7 linked regions of the Homo sapiens genome follow. The protein of the gene in region 4 purifies or fractionates together with the protein of the main gene of each other region. This does not show direct contact. Each region holds a gene or a part of one and is shown on either strand. Other genes may lie near its edges. The genes, in order: BMP2K, CACNA1H, NR4A3, KDM5B, PCNX1, GTF2A1 and PRDM13.

What was found.
Region 1: the proteins of KDM5B (region 4) and BMP2K purify together in Homo sapiens (affinity purification with mass spectrometry, with the first as the bait; one study listed by BioGRID). This does not show direct contact.
Region 2: the proteins of KDM5B (region 4) and CACNA1H purify together in Homo sapiens (affinity purification with mass spectrometry, with the first as the bait; one study listed by BioGRID). This does not show direct contact.
Region 3: the proteins of KDM5B (region 4) and NR4A3 purify together in Homo sapiens (affinity purification with mass spectrometry, with the first as the bait; one study listed by BioGRID). This does not show direct contact.
Region 5: the proteins of KDM5B (region 4) and PCNX1 purify together in Homo sapiens (affinity purification with mass spectrometry, with the first as the bait; one study listed by BioGRID). This does not show direct contact.
Region 6: the proteins of KDM5B (region 4) and GTF2A1 purify together in Homo sapiens (affinity purification with mass spectrometry, with the first as the bait; one study listed by BioGRID). This does not show direct contact.
Region 7: the proteins of KDM5B (region 4) and PRDM13 purify together in Homo sapiens (affinity purification with mass spectrometry, with the first as the bait; one study listed by BioGRID). This does not show direct contact.

Annotation. Positions count from the first base shown.
Region 1 is NC_000004.12:78,905,350-78,908,849, reverse strand, and holds part of BMP2K (BMP-2-inducible protein kinase), read right to left. Parts: intron 2,743-3,500; exon of another isoform or gene 2,689-2,742; intron 1-2,688. UniProt on the Homo sapiens protein: May be involved in osteoblast differentiation.
Region 2 is NC_000016.10:1,159,606-1,163,105, forward strand, and holds part of CACNA1H (voltage-dependent T-type calcium channel subunit alpha-1H), read left to right. Parts: intron 1-3,500.
Region 3 is NC_000009.12:99,824,885-99,828,384, reverse strand, and holds part of NR4A3 (nuclear receptor subfamily 4 group A member 3), read right to left. Parts: intron 2,727-3,500; 5' UTR 2,553-2,726; intron 1,656-2,552; exon of another isoform or gene 1,615-1,655; coding exon of another isoform or gene 1,584-1,614; intron 1,038-1,583; exon of another isoform or gene 919-1,037; intron 345-918; coding exon of another isoform or gene 343-344; coding exon 1-342. UniProt on the Homo sapiens protein: Transcriptional activator that binds to regulatory elements in promoter regions in a cell- and response element (target)-specific manner.
Region 4 is NC_000001.11:202,801,922-202,805,421, forward strand, and holds part of KDM5B (lysine-specific demethylase 5B), read right to left. Parts: intron 1-3,500. UniProt on the Homo sapiens protein: Histone demethylase that demethylates 'Lys-4' of histone H3, thereby playing a central role in histone code. Does not demethylate histone H3 'Lys-9' or H3 'Lys-27'. Demethylates trimethylated, dimethylated and monomethylated H3 'Lys-4'.
Region 5 is NC_000014.9:71,099,459-71,102,958, reverse strand, and holds part of PCNX1 (pecanex-like protein 1), read right to left. Parts: intron 970-3,500; coding exon 739-969; intron 1-738.
Region 6 is NC_000014.9:81,189,960-81,193,459, forward strand, and holds part of GTF2A1 (transcription initiation factor IIA subunit 1), read right to left. Parts: intron 2,881-3,500; coding exon 2,560-2,880; intron 1-2,559. UniProt on the Homo sapiens protein: TFIIA is a component of the transcription machinery of RNA polymerase II and plays an important role in transcriptional activation. TFIIA in a complex with TBP mediates transcriptional activity.
Region 7 is NC_000006.12:99,605,520-99,609,632, reverse strand, and holds the start of PRDM13 (PR domain zinc finger protein 13), read right to left. Parts: upstream 2,801-4,113; 5' UTR 2,599-2,800; coding exon 2,455-2,598; intron 893-2,454; coding exon 761-892; intron 447-760; coding exon 326-446; intron 1-325. UniProt on the Homo sapiens protein: May be involved in transcriptional regulation. Is required for the differentiation of KISS1-expressing neurons in the arcuate (Arc) nucleus of the hypothalamus.

The sequences.
Region 1 (3,500 bases), on a different chromosome or scaffold from region 4:
TGATTATTATGCACTGTATACCTGTATCAACATATCTCATGTACCCCATAAATGTATATACCTACTATGTACCCACACACAAATTTTAATGAGCATAATTTTTTAAAAAATGAGTAAGTTGGAAAGTGAAGAGGAGTACTAAAAATTTTGTTTGGAGACATTAAGCTTGACATATGTGTGAGACAACATTTAAGTGTACAGCAGTTAGGTATCTGTGATTTGAAACCAATGGTTAGTTTTTGGCTGAAGAAAATAGATTTGGGAGTTATCACCATGCAGTTGGTATGCAGAGAGAGCCACAAGACTAAAGGGCATACCTCGGAAGAAAACATAGAAGAAAAGAAGATCCAAAACTGAGCCCTCAGTATAAAACATTCAGAAGTCAGCAGAGGAAGATGAACATACAAAACAAACTACAAAGTAACAGCCAGAGAGGAGGAAGAAAACAGCTGAGTGCAATGTCACAGAAATGGAGAGAGAAGAATGTTTGAGGGAGGTAACAGACAACTGAGCTGGATGGTGCAAAGAGGTCCAGTAAACTAAGGACATAAAATGGCCACTGGATCTGGTCATCTTGTATAGTTTGTTGGCAATGTTGACATGAGTAGTGGTGCTAAAGAATGTGTGGGAGACAAGTATGTGAAGAATACCACCAGGTTATACTTAATTGCAAATATAATCTTCTGTCAGTTCCTTAAAACCAGCCAAGAGCTACATGCTGTATTTGTTATCCTTCCAGATTAAAAGCAAATCAAATGCAGATTCTCAAGTTTGACTTCTTCCCTACACAGCGTATTTATGATATTAAAAACAAAGTTAATTTTAGTGAATTTATTTTTATGAATTTTTATTCAAAAGCAAAATATGGGAAGAAGGGAAAAATGAAAATAAAATATGTACGGTTCCAGAAGATTTCCCATCATCCCTGACTGTGAAACGTTTAACGTATTACTCCTCGAGCTGCATACCCACCCACAGCCACAACATTCACACCTCACGCCTGCTCACGGACACCTCCAAGTAACATTCCAATGTTGCCCAAAGTGTATTCTGCAGAGGCTATTTCCCTAACAAGAACCAAGACAAACAGTTCTGTGGTCTCAAGCAAACAAGTCTATGAAATGGTGCACTCTGCATTCTGCCTCCACTCCTACTCACCTGGAGTATGCTCATTAAAGGTGCTAATGAGTCCTACACAAAAGAATCTAATTTTATGAACCCTAGGATTTCCCAAATTGTCTTCACTACCCTTTTATTTACATGTAATGCCTGTTAACCTTTAAAACCAACTATGCAAAAGTACTTTGGGGAAATGCTGCTATACAACTTATCTTGAAATTTTCCATTTCTAGTTGTGTTCCTGAAGGTCTTCTGGAACATTTAACGTAGGACAGATAATTCATCTTGGAGAGTGTCACTTGGAAGTGAATTTAAATTCGCCTTCTTTTTAAAATTATTACATTGTACTCCCTAGTCTTCTTAAAATTTACTGTTTTCATTATTCAACTGGCTACCATTACTTTTCAGAAGACATCTGTCACTTTATACTTCTCATTCTGTTGGCCCTTTGTCCATTTATCAAAGTTGTATTAATAGAAATACACATTTATAATTGTCAGTGTGGGTATAAATCTGTGGGTTTTTAACTTACTATTTTTAATGCATCTTTTCAGGTATCAACAGTCTATTATTTATTCTGATAGAAATATGATAAAATATTCCATATATAACTGTTCACTATTTAGCAATAGAATATTTAGGTTGTTTCTAGTTTTTCGGCATTTTAGATACAACCATGATTCATGCACTTTTTCCTTCAAGGAGTAAAAAGGAAACCCTCCTTTTTTAGTATCAATTTCACTTTATTTATATACTATGATTCCCTCCTCATGGGTAATTAACACAGCTACTAAAGCTAACCCAATAATAATCCTGACAAGGTCACCACTATTCCACTTTCTTTATACACAAAATGGGATAACACATTTTATATCATAGAGCTATTGTGAAGAAAGGACTTAGAACGGTGCCTGAACACATAATAAGCACTCTACCATCATCATGTCCTGGGAATGGCCAAATTCAATTATTTTATCCATCATACCCAATAAGCTTCTAGTAACTTTTCTGGGCCCAGTGGTTGCAGGTGAATATAAATGAGGGAGAAGTGTAGGGAGAAGCAAGTCTATGGCTAATTCAAGAGGAGCTGAGATCCACTTCAGAACTGACCAGAAGTAAGTAGACCAACAAATGTATATCCACACAGCATAAGGGTACATTTTAGATCCTGGAAATTCTATTTTTGATTTTTAGACAGCTATATTTGAGAACACAGTATAAGAAATGGAAACACACTTTCAAAAAGAGCAAGAAAAGACACAATCATCTATACCACCTTTGTGCTTTCAGGTTACATCTGCAAATAGTACGGGCAACTGGGGAAATTTTCTGTTGGTGTAGATAGACTGGTTTTACTTATTTTGCCCCCCTACATAAAACTAAAATAACAATCAAAAATATTTATCCAAATTCCTGTTTTCTCCCATATTCTTGCAACCCACACTGACATTGTTTAAATATTTCACTCTACACTTTTACTGCTGTTATAAACTTATAAAAAGTAAAGAGCAGTAATGAGGCTCTCTGAAAGCATACTAAGACAAACTATTAATCCTTTTATCTCTCCAGTACCTCCTGCTGAGGAAAAGTTAGGTTCCAGGCTGCAAGTTACCACAATCCAAGGTAAGTTTCTGCAGTAGCAGTGATCTACTTAATCATCTATTCATCATGAAACTACAGAAGAGCTGGGAAAGAAAGGTGAATTACACAAAAATAAAAAGTATTTCAGTATATTCTAAGGCTTTCAGTCCTATTCCATAGACATAAAAGACTGTCAGAATAAGTATTTTAAGTTATAAAGTTGGTTATAACTATACAATGCACAGCACTTTAGAATGTGACCTCTAGCTAAGAATGCCATAAACCTTCATACTCCATTTCTTTGCCTAAACATATTCCTATAATTTAAAAAAAAAAATTTCAGATCTTCCCACTATTTGTGTCTGGGGCCAGATTCCCACTAGTTGTTAGATTAAATAATACACATTTGATTTACTATGAAATTTAATCAGGATTATTTCACTGCTAAAGTTAATTTCCCAAAAGTATAAGCCTAAATATGTTGCTTTATAATTCAATATACCCTAAATCCTAATAATCCCCATATTTACTGAGATCTGTATTATTAACATAAAAATAGCTGTTCTTCAAGTAGGTGGGAGATGGGGGTATAATATTTAGAATAAGCACTAACAACATGTATTTACAGCATTAAAAACTGTGTAGATGGTGCACAGAATCATAACTCATTTACATTATTTTAGTATACTGTGAAATTTCATATATTCACCCACTGTTTTTATTTTTGGCTCTAAGTAATGTATTTCTTCTTTTTCTTTAACTAAATATGGTAGAATGATATTTTGATGGTTTCTAGTCAA
Region 2 (3,500 bases), on a different chromosome or scaffold from region 4:
GCCTCCAACTGGCGTCACAACTGCTCCTTAGGGAGGGGAGGCCTGGGGGCCGGGCTTAGCAGGAAGTCGATGAGAGAGACGGGGCTGGAAGGGCAGGTGAGGGCCGCACAGGGACAGAGGCTGGGAGTGGGGAGCACTGGTGTCCCACACACTCAGGCCCAGAGGGCGTGGCTGCTGCCAGCCCCTGAAGGAAGCTCTTGGACTCGTGGGCAACACGCTCCAAGCACCCGAACTTCATTCTTGCCGGGGCCAGCTGCGGGCACCCTCCCTGGCCTGGTGGAACGCTCAGGGGTGGTTCTGCATACTCCCCTCACCTCCCCCAAGGGCTGAGAGCCGAGGGCGATGCGGCCCCACCAGGCCGGGCTCCTGGAGCTGCAGAAGAGACGTCCCGTTCCGGGGTCAGGACAGGAGGAATGCGGGGGAGGGGCCAGCCTGTCAAACACTCCGGGGATGGATCCACAGCAGCTCTGCTGGCTGAGTCCAAGCCACGGTCGCACAGTCAAGGTCAGGCGAGGAACGCGTTACCTTTGTTTATGCAGATGTCGGCCAGGCCGTCCGTCCAGCCGCCTGTGCCGAGCCCGCTGTGGGAAGGGCGGGGACTGTCCCTGCCTGTCCTCGTCAGTGGGCATTCCCCTCCCTGGCACGGAAGAGGAGTCTCTCCTCAGTGGCTCATGTTGGCGTAACTTGGAACAACTCTAAGTCACGCGGGCCCAGGTTGAATTTCCAGGGTGGAGATTAAGGAGCGACCACTCACCCTGGGCAGATACAAGGGGTGAAGTCAGCCGGTCGCGCCCTGAGCAGTGATGGACGGCCGCCTCGGTCAGAGATGGTGGGGGCGGGGCTCGGGGAAGGAGCTCTGCTGGCTCTCAGCCCCTGCCCGGCTCAGGAGAGCTGGCAGCAGGTCTGGGCACCGTCCCCAGAGCACTGTGCCCGCCGAGGATGACAGATGGGGACGGAGTAGCAGCTTGCCGTGGTGCAGGGGGTGTGCCGCCACGTGGCCGCTGGTGTCCCTGGCCTCCGTGCACACTCCTCGCGGGGCGGAGGTGGGCCCGGGCTGACGGGAGAAGCGGGCCGTTGGCGGGGCCGTGAGAGCCCCCGGGTTTGATGAGCCGGACGGTTGATGAATGTGCTCCACGAGGCCTCCTTTGTCCTCTTGCTGCCGCCCGGTCGCTTGCCGGGAGCGGGAGCTGTGGGCAGAGAGATCCTTGGGTGGGTGTGGCCGCCGCCTGCGTTTGGAGGCCCCGTGCAGCGTCAACCCGGGACGCCAGAGCACCCCATCCTCGGGTGCGCGGCCGGCGAGGACCGAGGCATCAGCCCAGTGCGGCCCCCCCCCAGCCTCGGTGCAGCCCTGGGCTCTTTGCCCAAGTTGAGAGCAGGGCTGGCAGGGAGAGGATCCGGAGGCCCCCACGCTGCCTCGGGGTGAAGAGGCTCCTCTGACCCCCAAGGTGTGTAGACCTGACACAGTTGCACCCCCAGCCCTGCTTTGATGTCTGCAGAACTGGCTCCTGCAGAAAAGGCCTTGAGCGAGACCTCAGCGTCTGCTGGCCCTGCTGGACTCGTCTGACCCTGGGCTGCTGGTGGTGTGGGTGCTTCTGCCGTTGGCGACTGATGGGAGCGAAGCTGTTCCTTTGTGGATGGACCGTTAGGTGACACGGGATGTTGGCATTAATGAACGCTGTCAACTGAGCCGGTGGCAGAGGTGGGGGCAAGCCCTCGCCTCTGTTGACCGCCAGGCCGCCCTGTGTTCTCACCCCTTCTCCCCTCCCCAGCTGTCTGCACCTGGGCAGAGCCCCCTGGCCGGAGGTGGTTGTCTCTGGGCCCCTCACTGGCCTGAGGACTGAGGTGGGGATACCTTGAGGCCTTTTTTTGGGCAAGGTGGTCTTTAGTAGCCCCAGATGTTAAAGACTCAGCCTCAACTGGGTGGAGCCTCCTGGGATTCTGGGGTCTCCATGGCCACAGGAGGGGGGCTAGCGACCCCTGCCAGCCTGGGCAGTGCCTCCACGTGGGCCTCAGTTTCCCTGTCACACCACTTTGGTCTGTCATCTCGGTCACTGATGGAGTGAGGCTCCCAGCAGGCGGGTGAGAGAAGGGGCCAGATGCGGTCCCGGGAGATAGGCTGTCAGCCCCGTCCAGTCGGTGGGTGGCCAGTGCGGCGGCTGATGGGGGACAGACCGCTGGCCAGGCCCCACGCCAGCCCTGTCCCCATCTGTGAGCAGCACCCGGACCTCCTGGGTCCCCTTGCCGCAGCCTGCCTGTGGGGTGGGTCCGTGGGGTGGGCCTGGTCGGACGCGTTAATGGAGCTGCAGGCAAGGCTCGGGGCAGATCTTTCTAGAAGGCAGCAGAGCCATCACGGTGGGTCAGGCTGTGTCCCGTGAAGTCTGAAGTGGACTGGCAGAGGTGGGCACTGAGGTCCCTGCTCCGGACCCTGTCGGGGTCGTGTCACCTCCTGGGCGTTGGTTTTCTCATCTGTGAAATGGGCCTGCTGCCCTCCTGGCCTCTGGGTGTGTGGCGGGGACTCCTCGTCCCCACTCAGTCCCATGGGTGATGCAGGACATGGGATCCTGTCAGCCCCATGACCCCTCGCCCTGGGCCTCTGGCCTCCAGAGCCCCAAGAGGCCATTGCTGTCTGAGGCCCCTACCTGTGGCACTCTGTTACAGCTGCCTCCTGCCAGGGTGCCCCCACCTGCCCTCACAGCTGCGAGCAGGGGTGCAGGTGCCTGGGGGAGGCCCCCAGCACCTGCTTGGCCCTTTCCCCACCTCACCTGTGGGCCCCCCCGGAGGGAGAAAAATGGCCCATGAGCAGGAGGTGCTTGACGCAGTAACAGGAGTCAGCCCCTTTCAGGATGAATCGCGATTGGTCGCCCACTGTTGTCAGGCTCCTCCGATGAGGAGCAGCCCCCAGAGAGAGAGGACGCTTAGCCGTGAAGTGGGTCATTCGGAGCCTCGGTTGGCACGGGGGCTGGTGCTGCAGTTGTGTCTCTGTGCCCTGGTTAGAAGCTGCCCCGCACGGCCAGCTCCTGCGGACACCTGGAGTGGGGGGGGGGGGTCCATCCTAGGAGGAGCCGAGCGTCTTGGGACCCTGTGAAGGGGTCTGGGGGCCGCACTTGGCTCTGGTGAGCAGGGAACAAGATGGATGAGACCCGGGCCCCACTGACGCTGGGAGGACAGTGTCCAAGCTGGGGGACCATCCGCCAGGGCTGTGGCGTGAAGGCCGAGGGAGTATGAGCAGGGGGTGGGATAGTCCCAGGTGGCTGGAAACAGCTGTGGTCAGGTGGGCGAGCAGAGGTCAGTGGCCCCAGGTCCCTGGAACGCCTCTTCTCACGGCCACTCCACGGGTGCCTGGCCCTGCGGCCACGCGGAGCTATCCTTGGCTCCAGCCTCAAAGGCTGTGGGGGCACAGTGGCCGGTGCTCTGCCTGCCTGGACCTTGGGCTCGTCTGACTCTGTGTTTGCTGTGTGTCCCTCACTCGTCACCCAGCCTCTCTGTTCTGGGCAGGTGAG
Region 3 (3,500 bases), on a different chromosome or scaffold from region 4:
CTGCTGATGCTGCTGCTGGTGATGGTGGTGGTGGTGGTGGTGGTGGTGGTGATGGTGATGGTAGCTGGGCGCCCGCCCCTCCTCCACTTTGATCAAGGGCCGCTGCATTTGGTACACGCAGGAAGGCTTGAGTTCGTAGTTGCTCGAGTAGCCCTCCACGAAGGTACTGATGCTGGGCAGGGACGTGGTGGCTGTAGCCGTGATCTCAGTGCTGCCAAGGTCCATGGTCAGCTTGGTGTAGTCGGGGTTCATGATCTCCGTGGTGTATTCCGAGCTGTATGTCTGCGCCGCATAACTGGAACCTGGAGGGGAAGGGCTATATTGGGCTTGGACGCAGGGCATATCTGCAGGGACAGAGAAAAGGGTCTCTCAGAAGCAAGTTAACACTTGTTTTCTAGCCAACAGGCAGCATTGGGTTCACTGTTCTCTAATCTGGGAAACAGAGAGGAAGTGTCATCCTCTCCTCCTTCTGGTAGCATAGACACAAAGCCCCACACTTATTTTCTTCATCCCTAGTAAGGAAGCTGAATTCCTGACAAAGGGGTGCCAAAACCTGGCCTCCTGTGGACTCCTGTACCTATCTTTCCTCCCTTGCCCTGTCCTCCACTAGATTTGGGAAACTTGAAGTCTTTCCTCATAAGCTCAGAGATGTTTTTAAAAAGAGGCTTTGAATCCTATAAACTAATTGGAGTGGGCTCCTCAGCTATAACCTAGGGGGACAAAGAGAAAGCCAGTGGTTTATTTGGGAGGAAAGAGGCCATTGGTCCCCCAAGGCATACACATTGATTTGTAAACCTGAGTTAGGCAAGAAAAACTACCCTGTGAGAGATTTAGTGGCCAAGGGAGAGAGTTGACATTCTAACATTTTATGAGTGCCAATTGAGGTTGCCCACACACGTTGTGGTTGCTTTCTCCCACCTCATCCCCACTCTTCCAATAGGGCTAGCAGCCTGCACAAACTGGACCCCTGTTGATAACTTCAGTCAGCTAGGTGGGGACATAGGCCCAGGAAATTGACTCGGGAGAGTTTGTACCATCTGCAAAGAAAAAGATCAGCAGCTGCAACAAAACACCCACCCATATATATATATATACACACACACACACACACACACACACACACACATATATATATCCCAATTCTAACTAATAAAACATATCAGTGACTGTTTTGTGATAACAGTTTATAACTATCATAATAGGCAAGTTAGTATAGGTATTTCCTTATGACACTAGAATTAGTACCCATGAAAAAAAGCAGTTTCTCAATAGACTTGATTTCTCTGCCAGTTTGACTATGTTGCCCCCAAAGTGGCTGGTATCCAGGGTGCTTACTATTGTTCAGAGAGGCTGAACTGAGTGAGAAGGCGCTGAGAATTATTGGATGTAGTGGATGATTTATCTAATTATTTTTCTTTCTTTATGGCTAAATATAAATGGTAAAAAACGGCGGTTTTTGGTGGTTGGTTTTTCTGAGCCAAAGGAAAACCAGGTGCTTAACGCCTCTTTGGAGTCTATGGTGTAAAAGGTGTGACTAATAGAGAAGTGAATACTTCACATTTCCTTTGACATCTTTCTCTTACCCACATTTCCAAATCTGATTGAGTCATGCATGTATGGGATGAAATCTTGACTTGAAAAAAGGTGATGAGGGCCTGTTGGAAGAAGCAGTGATGAGGAGAGGCCAGTTCAAGCCTTTCTTTAACAAGCAGGGCCTTAAAAATACACTCACTAGTTTGAAGTCCAGTTACTTATCTTGCTGTCCAGTTGTTGGGATGAAATGAAAGGCTAATCATTTAAAAGAAAGAACACTGCCTGATCTTTGATCTATTCTCCTTCTCCCTTCAGCACCTCTAGGATTTCTCCATTACTCTTTTCTGTCATTCTTTCCGGCCAATCCCTTTTTACTGCTCTTATTTGTGTCTTTCTGAGGTTTCTAGCTAGAAGATGAGCTTGCTGGGATTGTATTCTATTTATCTGCATTATCTATGGTGCCCACACAGGCTTGGCACCTAGTATTCCTTTAACAAATTTGTAAAGAGGTGGTACAAACCAAAAGTGCAATCTGTTCTTTTGCCAAACTCAAATTTACTCTTTGGTTTTCATCTCAAATGCTTTTCTCCTTCCCTCTGAGCTTCAATCATCCAAACTTCTGCACCCAAATGATTTGGGTTTTATATAAATGAAAATGCTCAGTATTGCTCTAAGTGATTCCATAACTCTTACATGTGCACACTGGCTATAAAAGAAGAGCAAAAATGAAATTAAAAATGTATAAAATACCCTAATCTATTGGTGTATTTGTATTTCTCTTAGGAAAATTAATTTTGAGCAATGCAAGCTTAATTTAATTTGGCTGCTCCACTCAGTAGCAACAGGGTGTGGTATACAGAGGAGCTTCCTGTGAGGAAGCCACCTGTGTTGTGAAATTCGCGGCCAGCAGTCACTGTCCTGGCACTGGGCAGGTCGACCACGCTGCCCGCCGAGTGTGTGGTTCCCCCACCCACTTCCCTCAGCCAGGGAGGAGAAAAGGGTCTTGCCTTCGGACCTACCTGGAGGGTATCTTGCGCGCTGAATGGTGGGGCTGGGGGTCTCTCCAGCGGAGGCTGAGAGTGTAGGAGGAGCGGACGTCCGGCGAGGCGAAGCGCCGGCAGTGCTGCCCGGCACCGCTAAGGGTCCAGGCTCAGGGCCCGGGCTTGCCGGGCTGCCCTCTTCCGCAGTGGGCTCTACAGGCAAGGTGAAAGAGGACATAGGTCACAGTGAGACCAGGATGGGTCACTACGGCCCGGGCTGGGCGCATTGGGGACTGGGGGAATTGGTTGGCAACCTCTAGAAATGTTACATTAATTACAAAGAATTATCGTAAAATTAAGGGTGATTAATGGTACAGGAGTCCCCCTGGGCAAGAAGCATCACACGGCCTCGGGGAAGCCGAGGAAAGGTTGTTGGAACCCACTGCGCCTACCACCGTTTTGTGGCACCAAAACCGAGGCTAAAAAAAAAACGCGCAGCCTGTTATTGCCCAGAAATTGATCTCTCTGCCCCCACAATTGATTCCGAGCTTACGAAGTCAGGAAAACCAAAGAAAGCAGAACACTTGAGGAACGAGCTCCGCCCGAATACGGGGGGTCAGTGAGTGTTCACCAGCGGAAAAAAGCCATTTTCCAGCTCCGCCCGCCCCCACCCCTCAAATACAAATTTTACACGTTGCATAGGAAATGCACAAGGTCCGGAACGAATGCATGAATGCCCCGAGGAATTAAGAAAGTCTGCGCTTTTCATTCTAAATGCTAATGGAGCTTCGCTTCTATTAGCCGCGAGTTTCGAGGGCCAGGGGTCAAGCAAACAAAAGGGCACAGCGATGAGAAGGCTGGCGCTGGAAGCAAGGGGACGAAGCGGACGGCGTTAGCGGCTGATGGGACGAGCGGAGGCAGGTCCCCTGCACCCAGAGGGCGGTGTCTTCGAGGGTGGGCGGCTTGGAGGCTCCTGGCCACCCAGCG
Region 4 (3,500 bases):
GACCCAAACTTAAATTTGAGAATGTGTAGCCCTCCAGTTCCCAACCTTCATTCCATCTTTTTTTTTTTTTGAGGCTGCCAATGATCTGTACTATAACAGGTATATTAGAAAATACCAAATTCTCTTAGAGAAAAAAAAATTGCACAACAATCTCAACACTGAGAGGACTGTCCAAGGATGAAAGCAAGGTACTCCTAGGTTAGTAGTTTTTCAAACCTATAGATGGCATTTGGAAAGAAGTACACGCATAGGCTTCAAAAAACCCTGAACACCAGAAACCTAATTAGCACTTTCATTTTAGGGGCACGGGCTTTCCCTTATCCTTTTCTACAGCCAACCTTAATGGGGTCCAATTAAGGCAACAATGAAAGGTTACAAAAGTCTACAAAAAGGTCCCATTACAGCATTTAAACAGGGTTCATTTTTTTTAATCAAATAGTTTACACTGTTTTTTTGTTGTTGTTGTTTGTTGTTGTTGTTGTTGTGTTTGTTTTCTTTTTTGAGCCTGTTGCCCAGGCTAGAGTGCAATGGAGTGATCTCGGCTCACTGCAACCTCTGCCTCCTGGGTTCAAGCAATTCTCCTGCCTCAGCCTCCCGAGTAGCTGGGATTGCAGGCGCCTGCCACCATGCCCAGCTAATTTTTATATTTTTAGTAGAGACAGGGTTTCGCTATGTTGGCCAGGCTGGTCTTGAACTCCTGACCTCAAGCGATCCGCCCACTTAGGCCTCCCAAAAGTGCTGGGATTACAGGCACGAGCCACTATGCCCAGCCCTGTATTTTTTTACCCAAGAGAAAATTCCCCCACTGGCAGATTTCTACCCACTTATAAATGTAAACCAGTAAACACATTTTTCACTAATCTATCAACCTGAAATACTCTAATACTCTAAGTCTAGGCCAACAGGTCATAAAGAAAATTACCCTAGAAACAGAGAAAGAATAAAATTAAGGTTTAATAATTTTCTCTTAATTTTTCTTATCAGTGTCTCAACAAAATAATTCAGGCCAGGTGCACTGGCCCATGCCTGTAATCCCAGCACTTTGGGAGGCCAAAGCGGGAGAACTGCTTGAAGCCAGGAGTTCAAGACCAGCCTGGGCAACATACTGAGAAACCGCATCCCTACAATTTATTAGAGGCTGAGGAGGGAGGAGCACTTGAGCCCAAGAAGTGGAAGCTGCAGGGAGCCTTGATTGCAACACTGCATGCCAGCCTGGATGACAGAGTGAGATTAAAAAAAAAAGGAAATTTCAGGCCCTGGCTTTTAATAGAGAATGTTTATTAATGTTTTTCAAAGGTAATTCTCTACTCATTTCGCTCTTTTAAAAGTTTAGATTGCATGTTTAAAACCATACCCTATAACCATAGGAAGGGAAGGAAATTTTTCCAGTGGGGGTGGGGACTCAAATCTTTAGCTGACTCATATTTGCAATATCATTCACATTACATTCTTAAAGTCTACACGTTTTGTTTATTAGTTCACTAAGAATTACAACTGGGTAGATATGTTTGTGGCTACTAATGTGCCCAATTTACCACTGGCAAAGTCAAATTTAGCTAAACACCCATTCAATAACTACAACAAATGAAGTTTGTTTTAGCTTTAAGGTAGACATTTGTGGCCTAGGTGCGGTGGCTCACGTCTGTAATCCCAGCACTTTGGGAGGCCGAGGTGGGTGGATCACCTGAGGTCAGGAGTTCAAGACCAGCCTAACCAACATGGTGAAACCTCGTCTCTACTAAAAATACAAAGTTAGCCGGGCGTGGCGGTGCATGCCCACCCAGCTACTCAGGAGGCTGAGGCAGGAGAATCGCTTGAACCCGGGAGGCGGATGTTGCAGTGAGCAACATGACGTTGCGCCATGGCACTCCAGCCTGGGCAACAACAGCAAAACTCCATCTCAAAAAAAAAAGGTAGACATTTGTGGCCTAGAACTGTAGGACTTAATCCAACCTCCTACCAGGTTTTTCTCCTGGGCATTATAGTCCTAAATTTGTCTTAAAAGGTAGTTAGGGGTCGGGGGAGGGGGGAGGGAAAGCATTAGGAGATATACCTAATGTAAATGATGAGTTAATGGGTGCAGCACACCAACATGGCACATGTGTACATATGTAACAAACCTGCACGTTGTACACATGTACCCTAGAACTTAAAGTATAATTTAAAAAAAGGAAAAAAAAAGTAGTTACAAGTGAGTTCAGGGTTTCTTTTGAGGGAGATGAAAATGTTCTACAATTGATTGTGGTGATGGTTGTACAACTCTGAAAATATCAAAAACCACTGAATTACACATCATAAATTCGTGAATTGTATGGTATATTTCAATAAAAGGGTTTTTTTTTTAAGTAGTTATAAGTTCTTCCTTTGCTCAAGGATGTTTCTACTGATAAGCCTCTTCTCTAAACGTTAAAGGCTTAAAGTGGCCAAAGATACAAGTAGGGAAAGATTTCATGACACCAAAGAAATAGGGAAAACAGAGAGAGGGTTAGGCCTAAGTCGATCAAACCCCAAATTAGGGAGAATGATACGCTGGAAAGGGAGTAAATGAGCTCCATATCATTAACACTTCTACCATACAAAGAAGTGTATAAGTTCCTCCCTCTTCTCTAGGAGTGGAACCAACAGGCTCACTCAAAAATGGTGACTGTATTAAAACATTTAAGGGCAGTTTTACACTTGGCTATAAAGATGAAGGAATCAAACTAGTAACCACAAGAAGTTAAAGCTGAAAAATTTTTGTCTCTTGTGGCCTCTGGGGTTTGATTTAAACCTTCTCCGGACACAAAGAAGAAATCTGTGGAATCTAGGCCCGGCACGGTGGCTCACGCCTGTAATCCCAGCACTTTGGGAGGCCGAGGCGCATGGATCACCTGAGGTCGGGAGGCAGAGGTTGTGATGAGCCACTGCACTCCAGGCCTGGGCAACAAGAGCAAAATTCCGTCTCAAAAAAAAAAAAAAAAAGAAATTTGTGGAATCTATCTATGGCCAAATGTGAGACATTTGAAAGCAAGAAAATAAGTTACTAAAGCCATAAATATATTCCTATCAAAATTTGGGAGACAAAAAAGTATTTACTGAGCAGCCAACTATTTTTCTGCCTAATAGTTACACCCTTAAAATTACTCATCTCCAAATACCACAAAGTGATATGGAAAAATATCATTTGTCCTTAAACAGACATCTAAGTACAGTATCATGGAGGAAATTAAAAATTTGCATTTTAAAGGTGACAAAACCAGAAGCCAGATGAATTGTAAATTTAAGAAGGTTTTGGTCCAGAAAACAAGCCTGGTTATCCTACATAGTTGATATAATTTGAAACAAAGGTTTGTATTAAACTTCAAACTCAGATTTGAAGTATAGTCTTCTTGACTTAATCACGTTTTCTCACATTTATCTTACTATATTTTCAAATTTCTGAGAACCCCTAAGCTGCCATATACAAAATAATGTAAGTACTCTAAGTTTTCAGAAGCCAAGCAGTTTGGGAGTCTCACTGA
Region 5 (3,500 bases), on a different chromosome or scaffold from region 4:
ACTGAGATGTTTAAAAAAACAAACAAGCAAAAGTTAGAATGAACTATTTAACTTCTGATCTTTATTAAGTACATGGTATGCTATCATTTTGCAACCTAAGAATCATATTATATTAGCAATATGGTGCTGACTTTTTAAAAAGAGATGCTGCCCAAATTGCATATATAAAATATATAAGACCTGCCATTTAATGGATAAAAGACTGTCAAAACTGAAATAACCAAAAATTTTAAGGCTTTATGGCACATGAGAAACTTTCAGAGGACAGAATAAAGTACTAAAAAAAAATAAGTAAAATTAAGTGCTCATAAACAAGAAAGACAAATGTAATATGGTCATCACATTTTTTTTCTGTGAAAAAACTTTCAATTACTTTTTAAAAGTTTACATCAAGGCTGGGCGTGGTGGCTCACACCTGTAATTGTACAGCTTTGGGAGGCTGAGTCAGGTGGATCACTTGAGGCCAGGAGTGTGAGACCAGCCTGGGCAACATTGCAAAACCCTGTCTCTACAAAAAACACAAAAATTAGCCGGACATGGTGGTGCATGTCTGTAGTCCCAGCTTCTCGATAGGCTGAGGTGGAGCAAAGGGAGGTCGAGAGCCTGCAGTAAGCCCATGATCATGCCACTGTATTCCAGCCTGGGCCCAAAGTGAGACTCTGTCTCAAAAAAAAAAAATTTTAGATCAAGTTATTCAACTTCTATGTTTTGGACCAAATAAATACCTCAAACACTTACTTTAATGACCCTGAAGCTCAGGTAGCGTCTGTTGAGCATGATGATTTTATATTCATTGGTGCCATCATCCATGACATGCCGCAGAGCAAGCAAGGAGGGAGAGTTGGCAAGTACTGCACTCCGCCATGCAGGGTCCCCTTCATGGGCTATTACGAGGTTCTTCTCATGAGATACTATGGCTTCATAGAGCACAGTAGGGTCATCATATTCATCTGGAGAAGTAAAATGATCCTAAATACAAAAATAATATATAAATTTTTAAAGGAAAATAAAAGAACTGATAACTTCTACAGTTACTAAGTGAAAGTTCTTAAAAACTGGTTTATTATGAATATTTCAACACATGTTAATATTATTAGAGATAAATTATAGATTCTCAGTCATAACTGGGTTAGGAAGTAGCTCATTACTGCTATACTATTTTTGTAAATTCCTCAATCCAACCCTCTCCTCTAAGTTCTAGATGAATAAACATCATTTCTGGTTTTTATGTGTTTTGTTTTTCTCTTTCAAGTTGGTTTTTCATATCTTTATTCATGTTTTTTTTTCTGTTGAAGGATTACGTCACTATTAGGTAAGGAAGGCTAAAACTACATAAAAGGTCTCTATATTGTGTTTCTTCTTAACTAGATACTTTTCACATAAAGTCGTATCTCTAAAATGGGTTCTAATATATCACTTTATCCTGCCTCTCACCTAGTTAAGATACAGCTCAAAGCTAGCAGCTCTGAGCACAGATTTGGGGTCCTAGTCCTAGAGAAGTTGGTAAAGTTTTCTCTGAAAAGTATCTTGGTCTTAATAACTACTTATTCATTTGATAGTTATTCAGTATCTACCATGTACAAGACTGTCTGGCAGGCAGCATGGATAAAACAAAGAAGATATGAAATGTATCTCCCTATTACAAACCTACACATTAACAGGGACAGGACATATACTGAAATAACTGTAACACAAATCTGCAGTTTTGAAATGGTATATTAAAGAAATGTAAATATGATAGGCTGCTTTCATATTTATAGTTGGGAGGCTGACAAATTTCTGTATCCCAGTAAAGTAATCCATTTGCACTCAAGTCAACTGACCAGAATTTGTGCTATGTGAAAGGAGAAGAGGGAGAGTAAGAAGGAATATCCTTAAGGATAGAGCCTGTTAGCTGGGGGGTTGAGATATGTGAGATAATACTGTATACATAAATAATGCTTCATAATGTAAAATGTTCTACATTATTTCACTGGAATTTTACAACAATCTTGTCAAGTAGGTTGAGTTGATAATACCTGCATTTTCCATGTTTAAAAACTGAAGCTTAAAGAGGCTTAATTGCTTCCTAAGTGTAGGAAGTTAGTAAATGCCAGGCAGAAGATTTTGGACCTCGAAGACTGGTATTCTGGAATAACTCAGTCAGACAAAATAAAGAAAAAAGAATAAAAGAAATGAAGAGAGTCTTTGAGGAATACGGGATTATGTAAAGCAACCAAACTTACCAATTAATGACATTCCTGAGAGAGGAGGTGGAAAAGTAAACAACCTGAAAAACATATTTGAGGGAATAACTCAAGAGCATTTCCCTAATCTTGCTAGAAAGGTGGACATCCAGATACAAGAAATCTGAGAACAGCTGTGAGATACTATACAAAATGAACATCACCAGGCATACAGTCACCAGGGTGTCCAAGGTCAACACTAAAGAAAAATTCTTAAAGGCAGCTAGAGAAAAAGGTCAGATCACATAAAAAGGGAACCCCATCAGGTTAATAGTAAACTTCTCAGAAGAAACTTTATAAGCCAGAAGGGATTGGGGCCTGTTTTCAGCATTCTTAAAGAAATTCCAACCAAGAATTTCATATCCTGCCAAACTAAGCTTCATAAGTGAAAGAGAAATAAAATCTTTTCCAGACAAGCAAGTGCTAAGGAAGTTTGTTACCACTTAACCAGCCTTATAAGAGATCCTTAAGGGAGTTCTAAACATGGAAACAAAAAAATAATACCTGCTACCACAAAAACACACTTAAGAACACAGCCCACAGACCCTATAAAGCAACCATACAGTAGAACTACGAAGCAACCATTCATGATACATGATAGGACCTTCATGATAGGACCAACAACTTCCTAATAGGACCAAAACCTCACATATCAATATTAACCTTGAATGTAAATGGTCTAAACACCCCACTTAAAAGACACAGAGTTGCAAGGTAGATTAAAAAAAAAAGATCCATTTGTCTGGTCTCTTCAAGAGACCCATCTCACATGCAATGACACTCATAGGTGCAAAGTAAAGGGCTGGAGAAAGATTTATCATGCAAACAAACAAAAAGAGCAGGGGTCACTATTCCTATATCAGATAAAATAGACTTTAACAACAGTAAAAATGGAAACAAAAGGTCATTACCTAATGATAGAAAGTTCAATTTAACAAGAAGACATAACTATCCTACATATATATGCACCCAACATTGGAGCACCCAGATTCATAAAACAAGGTTTTACTGGCCTACAAAAAGACTTAGCCACATAGTAATAGTACGGGACTTCAATACCCCACTGACAGTGTTAGATCACTGAGGCAAAAAACTAACAAAGAAACTCTGGACTTAAGTTTGACACTTGGCCAATTGGATCTAATAGACACCTACAGAATACTCCACCCATCAACCACAGACTATACATTATTTTTATCTGCACACAGAACATACCCTATGATCGACCACATGCCTGGCCATAAAGCAAGTTTCAATAAATTAAAAAATCAAAAT
Region 6 (3,500 bases), on a different chromosome or scaffold from region 4:
TTGAAAACATTAATAAAATCAACACATCCCTGGTAAGACTGAACAGGGAAAAAAAAAGATGGCACAATAATTATATTAGGAATGAAGATGACAAAGGATTCTGGCATCAAAAAGACAATATCATGATTAACTTCATGTTAATCAACTTGAAAATTTAGATAAATATATAGAGAGTCCTAGAAAAATATAACTTATCAAAACGGTCTCAAACAGAAACAAAATACTTGAAGGGCATGAGATTACTAGACCCAGGTATCTGTAGTGTCATGTTTTAACAAATATCAACAGAAGAATTAAATACAATCTTTGAAAAAAAAAAAAGAGTTCAAAATACAGGAAACATGTCCCCAAATTCATTTAACAAAGCTACCATAACTGAAAACCTTGTAAGAAGAGTATGAGAACAGAAAATCACACAGTATCTATCAATCATAAATATCTACAAAAAAGTCCTCAACAAAATGAATTCAGCAATTTATAAAAAGAGAAATATAAAATGATCAAGTTGTGCTATCCCAGGAGTACAAGATTGGTTTACAAATAGAAAATCAATTAATGAAATCCATTATAAATAACATTACGTGAGAAATTATACAAATCATTGCAGAAAAGGTGTTTAATTAAATGCAACATTCACTTACAGTTTAAAAAACAAAGCAATGCAAAGAAGGGAATTTACTTAACCTGATGAAGATATCCATTAAAAAAAAAGAAAACCCACAACAAACATTAAACTTAACAGTGAAGCATGGAAAAGATTACTTTTCAGTTTAAGAAGAAGAGAAGAGTGCCTGCTATCACCACTTCTAATCAATACTGTTCCCGAAGGCTTAGCCAATGAGCCACAAAAAACTGCCGTTCTTCATATAAGATGTGAAAGTCTACACAGAAGATACAAAAGAATCTACAGATACATTATGAGGACTAACAAAAGACATTAGGACGGTGGCTGGTTCAAGGATGAATATTAAAAGCGCTACATATTTCCATCCTACCAATAAACTGGAAAAGGTAATAAAAACATGTTACTTCAAGAAGCACTGAAACTATGAAGAATTTAGGGGGAGGAAACGGGCAAGAGACCTCAATAAGCACTTCTATACAAAACACAAATATCAAATAAATATACAAAAAGAGGCTAAAACTCCTAAGTGAGGAAATGCAAACTAAAACCAAAATGAAATAATACTATTTTCTACCTACCAGACCAGCAAAAATCAGGAAGCCTGACACTATCAGGTATTGATAAGGGGGTATGGACATCTGCACAATTATGTATTGAATGGCAGAAGTGATTTGGCATTTTATTATAAAGTTGCAGATGTGCATGACTTAGGAGCCAGAAGTTCAATGTTCGGTATAAAATTTAGAGAACCTCTTGCATTTGTGTCCCCAGAAGACATACACTACAATATTTTATAACTGTTTGTAACAGTAAACAACAAGAAACAATCCTTATGTCCACTGGATTAGAAAAATTGACAAATAAAATTATGGTATATTCAGCAATGAAAATAATTATAGCTATATGCAACAACTTGGATAAACCTCAGGAATATCATTTTAAGGGGAAAAAACCAACTTGCAGAAGAATACGTAATTACTTCATTTACGTTGTAAACATGCAAAACTAAACAATATGCTATTTAGGAATATAAATATATATGGTAAAATATAAAAGCAATTAATAATCAACACAAATGTATGAGCAAAGGTACTTTGATGGCCTAGGAATGATGGGATTAGGGAGAGGCATCTAAGGCACTTTAAATAATGGAATTTTATTTTAACTAGATGGTGGGCACCAGGATGATTTTTATCTTGAAACATTTCTATTCATTTGTGTCTATTCAATATTCAATAATAAACTATGTTTTCTTCAGAAAAAAAATTACTTAGATAATTTAGAAGAACTTTGTACTAAGAAACAAAAAGACTGCATTTTAGGCTAACGAAGGCAATTAACAGTGAAAATTGTGGTGGGACAAATAGTTTTTGGAGCCTAGTAACTAAGCTGAAATAGTGAGGAAAACAAAGGCATATTTATATGCTTCTAGAAGAACACAGACATTAAGGGTACATAGGTTTTTAAGGAAGTGGTATAGAACATGGACCAAAAGGTTTTAAATATTTAATAAATTTGTGACATTTGGTTCTTGAGTTTGCTCTCTCCCCAAATGTTGCCACGCTTTTTAAATTACTGAAGCAAAAGATTAACCACATCTATTTATCTACCAATGTCTTATGTTTAAGCCACATTATAAATGCGTAAGCCAGAGTTAGAATTACCTGTACTCTTTACTACACATATTAATACAATTTAATTTGTTATACATTTTTTATTACCAGCTATATGAAAGTTATATTTTATGAAGATAAATATAGCCAGAATATAAAAACCTTACTAAAGTTAAAACAATCTAACTTTATCTTTAAAATCTTATGTTGTACAGCACCTAACAGTCTCTGAAAAAAACAGGATATAATTTATCAGTGTTGTACCAACTAAAAAAGGAAATAATCAAGTAGATTATTTTAAGTATGTTACTAGAAACTTACTTCTTCCACCTGCCCATCTTCAGCTCCATCTTTCTCTTTGTCTTCCTCCTCATCATCATCATAGTCTTCTTCTTCATCTTCATCTTCTTCAGATGATGTATCCCCAGTTCCATCAACTTGTAAGACCAATGGAGCTTGTGTTTGAGCAGGCTGGGCCTGCGGTTGCTGCTGGCCAGTTGCAGTTATCTGTGCTTGGGCTGGTGTAGGTGCTGCCACTGTCGTAGGTATAACTTGAGTCTTATTTCCTGTAAATAAGATTTGCTGAGGCTGGATGATGACACCTGTCTGTGGTGAAATCCCTCCAGGAAGAGGAGCCAGCACCTAAAGCAAAAGAAAACCACATAACAGTAACTAGTTAAGAGGATCAAGTATGGTACACAGAAATAGAAACAAATGCTTAAGATTCACCAGAATGGCCATATTTCATACACAGTTAAAAACTACCAAAGTACAAAAGCAATTAGTTTAACTAGTGTAGTGACCCATTAAATTTCTATTTTATCAAATTTCTAGAAAATAAGGATTTTCTAAAGATAACTGCTTCATTTATTGAGCACATACTATGTATATGCCAGCTACCAGGACAAAAGTTATACACTGCCTTCACATGAAGAACACTGGACTGAGAATCTGAAAACCTGGGTCTACCTTTTTTTTTTTTTTTTATAGATGGAGTCTCGTTCTGTCACCCAGGCTGGAGTGCAATGGTGTGATCTCGGCTCACTGCAACCCCTGCCTCCTGGGTTCAAGCAATTCTCCCACCTCAGCCTCCTGAGTAGCTGGGACTACAGGTGCGCGCCACCATGCCCGGCTAATTTTGTTATTTTTAGCAGAGACGGGGTTTTGCCATGTTGGTCAGGCTGGTCTCGAACTCACGACCTCATGATCCGCCCGCCTCCCAAAGTGCTGGGATTACAGGCGTGAGCCACAACGCCTGGCCA
Region 7 (4,113 bases), on a different chromosome or scaffold from region 4:
ATTACAGGTGTGAGCTACCGCGCCTAATTTTTTTTATTTTAATTGAGTAAATAATGGTCTGTTTGAATATGCAACAGAAAAAGGATGGCCCCATTAAGTTCATAGAGCCTACTTTTTCCCCTGCCATTGTGAGCCAGATTGCTACTATCACTGTTATCGTTTATGGTTGATTTTAAGGAGGTAGTGGCGACCTCTCTCCTCTTTGCCTTGAAATACAGGGAATGTGAATTCCATTTTACATAGATCGAGCTATGTCTAGGGACTCGCTTCAAGACAGGAGGAGGAGGGCTGGACTTTTGCCCATCCACGCTTTTGGAATGGGTACCTTTCTCGTCGTGAGTCGGAGTCGCTGTGGTGGGGATGTCGAACCACTGAGCCAAGGAGTTAGAATACCACACTGTCAGCTCCTCCCCTGGCTGGACGTCTCGCAATGCTCGGTAGAAGATCTGGGACGCAAGGAATAGAACAGTTCAATGTCATTTCCTGGGTAATCGGTCAAAAAGCAACTGAGAAGAAAGGTTCAAATCCGGATTCTGATGCTGTGTGACCCTGGAGAAGCTACTGGAGCTCTCTGAACCTCACTTCCGTCATCCTTCAAACGGAAAAACAATAGTAACTACCTTAAAGGGTTGTCGAGACGTTTAAATGAGACGTCTAGCTAAAGTACTTTGCTCTTAATATTTTTGGCCACCGCAGGGACGGTTAGGTAGACTGAATTGGCGGTGGGGAGTGGGGGGGTGTGGAGAGAAGCCCGCAGTACCTGTCCTCCGGGTAAGTCTGCAATAGCTTCCAGAGTCTGTTCCTGGGAGTTTCTGGCTGCCCGGATTAACCCTATCCACTCCAGAGGGGAGCCCCCCGACTCGTCCACCAGCTCCCCTCTCACCATGCGCACCTGCAACACAAGCAGTGGTCGTTCTCCCCCGCACCTTGGCCAGGCCCACAACCCAAACAGAAAGTTTATCCTCCACCCCAACCCAACACAGGAAAGTGGTTGTTTTTGGTTTGGCCAGACCACTATGGGCTACTGGGAGGAGGAGAATTCCTTAGGACCTTGCTTCGGGGAGGGAGAAAGAGGAAAGTCTACCTATGCTAACAGTACTCCCACTTCCCTGCGCCCCACCTTGACGACACGGGGAGGGGAGAGGGGTGTTGAGAGCATCCTCCCTGAGTGCTTAGGCACATCTTGTACCAAGTTGTCCCCTACCCCAGCTCTCCCATTTGCAGTTCTGAGAGCAGCCGTAACACCACGGTAGAGACATTTCTAGGTCAGTCCCAGGGCCCAGAGCGTACCCCCGACAAACAAACAAAAAAATTATCTCATGCCTCCTGTATTCTGTGTGCATCGCACCTAGTTGCCTGTGAGCCCTGCAGCTAAAGTCTCGGAACAAAGCCCAAGCGGGGAAAAGCTTGCCCGCAGCTGGCAGGCCATTTAAAAGCAATTAAAACGCGTTTAAAGAGGAATGCGCGGTGGGCACCAAACCCCGCTTTAGACTGTAGTGGGGGGCGTGATTGCAGGAGGAGCGAGGTGCAAGTCCCGCTGGCTGGACACCGGAGCTTTTTACTAGAAAGCTCCAAGCAAGGCAAGCTAAAGCCAAGGAAGCCAAAGTCCTTTCTTCTACCCCAGACTTCTGCCTTCATTTCCCGGTCGCTGTTTGCCGACCTTTGGCTCCTGGGACGCCCCCAAAGCGGGCGAGTGCTATAAGTCTCTCTGGTCAGGGGTCGCGACGGTGTGTGGAGTGTGGGAGTCAAAGCTAGTGGTTTGGCCCTGGCGCCTCCCGGTTGGGCCTCTGGACTCTCAGAGCCCCGCTGCAGACGCTCTGACCCTGTGCCCCGCGCGAATGGGCGCGCCTCGCCCTTGGAGCCCGCGTCAGAGCCAGTACCTTGCTCATCCTCTCTCCATATGCCGCATACCCACAAGCCGACATCGGCAAGGGAAAAAAAAATATCTGAGGAGGTTCTAGGAACTGAGAGCCTCCCAAAGATTTTTTTTTTCAGGAAAAAAAATTACTTTAAGGCGAAATTAGGCCTCAAATTAACATATTGAAGGGCAGAAGGGAAGAAAGGGTCTCGATGCCCTGAGCCCCCAGAAAGAGGGTGCTTTTGCAGAGAGAGCTGCGGACAGCGTGCGGGGGTGGGCTTCTGGCTTCTGACTGAGGAGACCCGAGAGCGCAGGGGAAAACACAAGCTGCGAATGGTCCCGGCACCTACAGCGCTCAGTGCACCCCACCCAGGGCTGTCGCCTCTCGGCCACATCCTCTCCTCTCAGCCCGACCCCGTCCAGCTCTCACAGTTAAAGAGGCTACTTGCTCAGAATAATAGGAGTCCCCTTCCACCCGGCAGAATTAGCAGGTAACGACTCAATCACTCCCTTCCTCCACTTTCTCTCGTACCCCTTTCCCGGGTCAGGGCACTGAGAGGCGAATGGCAGTGGGCAGAGGTCTGAATGGTCAATACCTTTTTCTTAGGCCCGGGCTCCCTGCGGTCTGACAGGTACTTGCCCAGCTTGAAGGTACCAGGCACCGGTCCGAGGCGCAAGCCGGCCGGGATGCAGCAGTCGGCACTCACGCTGGTGGCTGGCGCTCTGGCGGCTCCGTGCATTGTTGCCGCCGCCACCAGGCAGGCGCTCGGGTGCTCCAGGTCCTTGGAAGGGCGCGAGTGACAGAGCTGGAGCTGCGCGCTAGCCAGAGAGCCGCGCCCCGACGTGCGTCCTCCGCCCGCGGAGTGACGCGGGCGGGCATGCACTGCGCCTTTTCAATCGGGGCGGGAGCCTTTTGGCACCGCTAGCGCAAGGGCGCGGAGTTTGGTGAGAGAGTTGCGCTGCGAAGCAGCTGCAGAGTCCCACCCGAGAGGGTCACATGGAGTGGTTCCCTCAGCCCCCTGCATAATCGAGGCCGCTGAATGGCTAGCACACAATGGTCCAGGCGACCTTCCCATTCCTAAAAATCCAATTTGTCAAGGGCGAAGAAAAGGCACTGGTGAATCAAAGGTCCGGCGGGACCATTAATCCTCAGCATGGGGTATTGTCCTCCAGACAGTTACGATATTTTAAGTGACAAATCCACTGTATAATTTCTCCATAAATTTTACTTCCTTTTATTGTTCCCCGACAAACCAGTTTTGGGAAATAAGTGACTACTTTAAGTCTACTTGGCTGATTCCTTTGAGCCTTGATCTACTTCAAAGATTTTTAATTCTCTCCCCTTGGCTTTATTGTAAAGGAGATTAAACAAAGAGATGGAGACTGTTTGGAGGACTTGTTAACTACTATTGATTTCTGGCGTGTGCCATACAGAAATTAGGCAGGTACTTGATGGGAAAACACCAGAAAATACCTACACTTTTTAAATAACAACCATATTACCATTTCAGGGGATTGGGTTCAGGCCAGTCGTCTATTCAGAACCGCTTTAATTCTCACTTCTGTCCCATTTCGTCCGAAAATATGATGAAGCCTCCAGACCAAGTTGAGAAGGGGAGGTCAACTGCTCATCACTTTTCTCGGGCACACCCCGGGCCTGCACTTTCTCTGGAGAATGGGAAACAGCCCCAGAACCAACAGTTTCGAATGGGGATCCTGCGCCCCGGTCCGCAGCCCAGGGTTGAAGAGGAAGAAGTTCTACCAGTGGGTTATTGATCACGTCCCCTAGAAGATGTCCTTGGACTAACTTCCCTAAAACCAGCAACCTGGACTTTTCTATTAAAAAAAAAACAGTAAACAAAAACGAAAATCACCGCAATCTGTTAAAGGTTGTAGAGAAGAGGGGCGAGGTGGGCGTTTGGGACAACTCTTTCTTACACCTACTTTGTGAACTAACAAGACGTTGTACTTCAGAGTTAAACCGGAGAGCTACCCGTTTTCTTTTAGGGAAGCCTCCAATTGGCGTGAGAACATTTATTTTCATAAATAGTAGCCAAGTAATCAAGTTCATCAGATATTTGTGATTTCTGCCGGCACCTGCCGCGTGCTGCTAGTTCTGAGCACAGCTCCCCAAATCCTATGCAGCCAGCACCGGAGCCCGATGCAGTTCTTCCAAGAGAGGCCTGAGTGGTGGTGTATTTCCAAGCCTAGCGCCAGAGGCCCAACCACTGCACAAAAGGGCAGAGGGCCCTCAG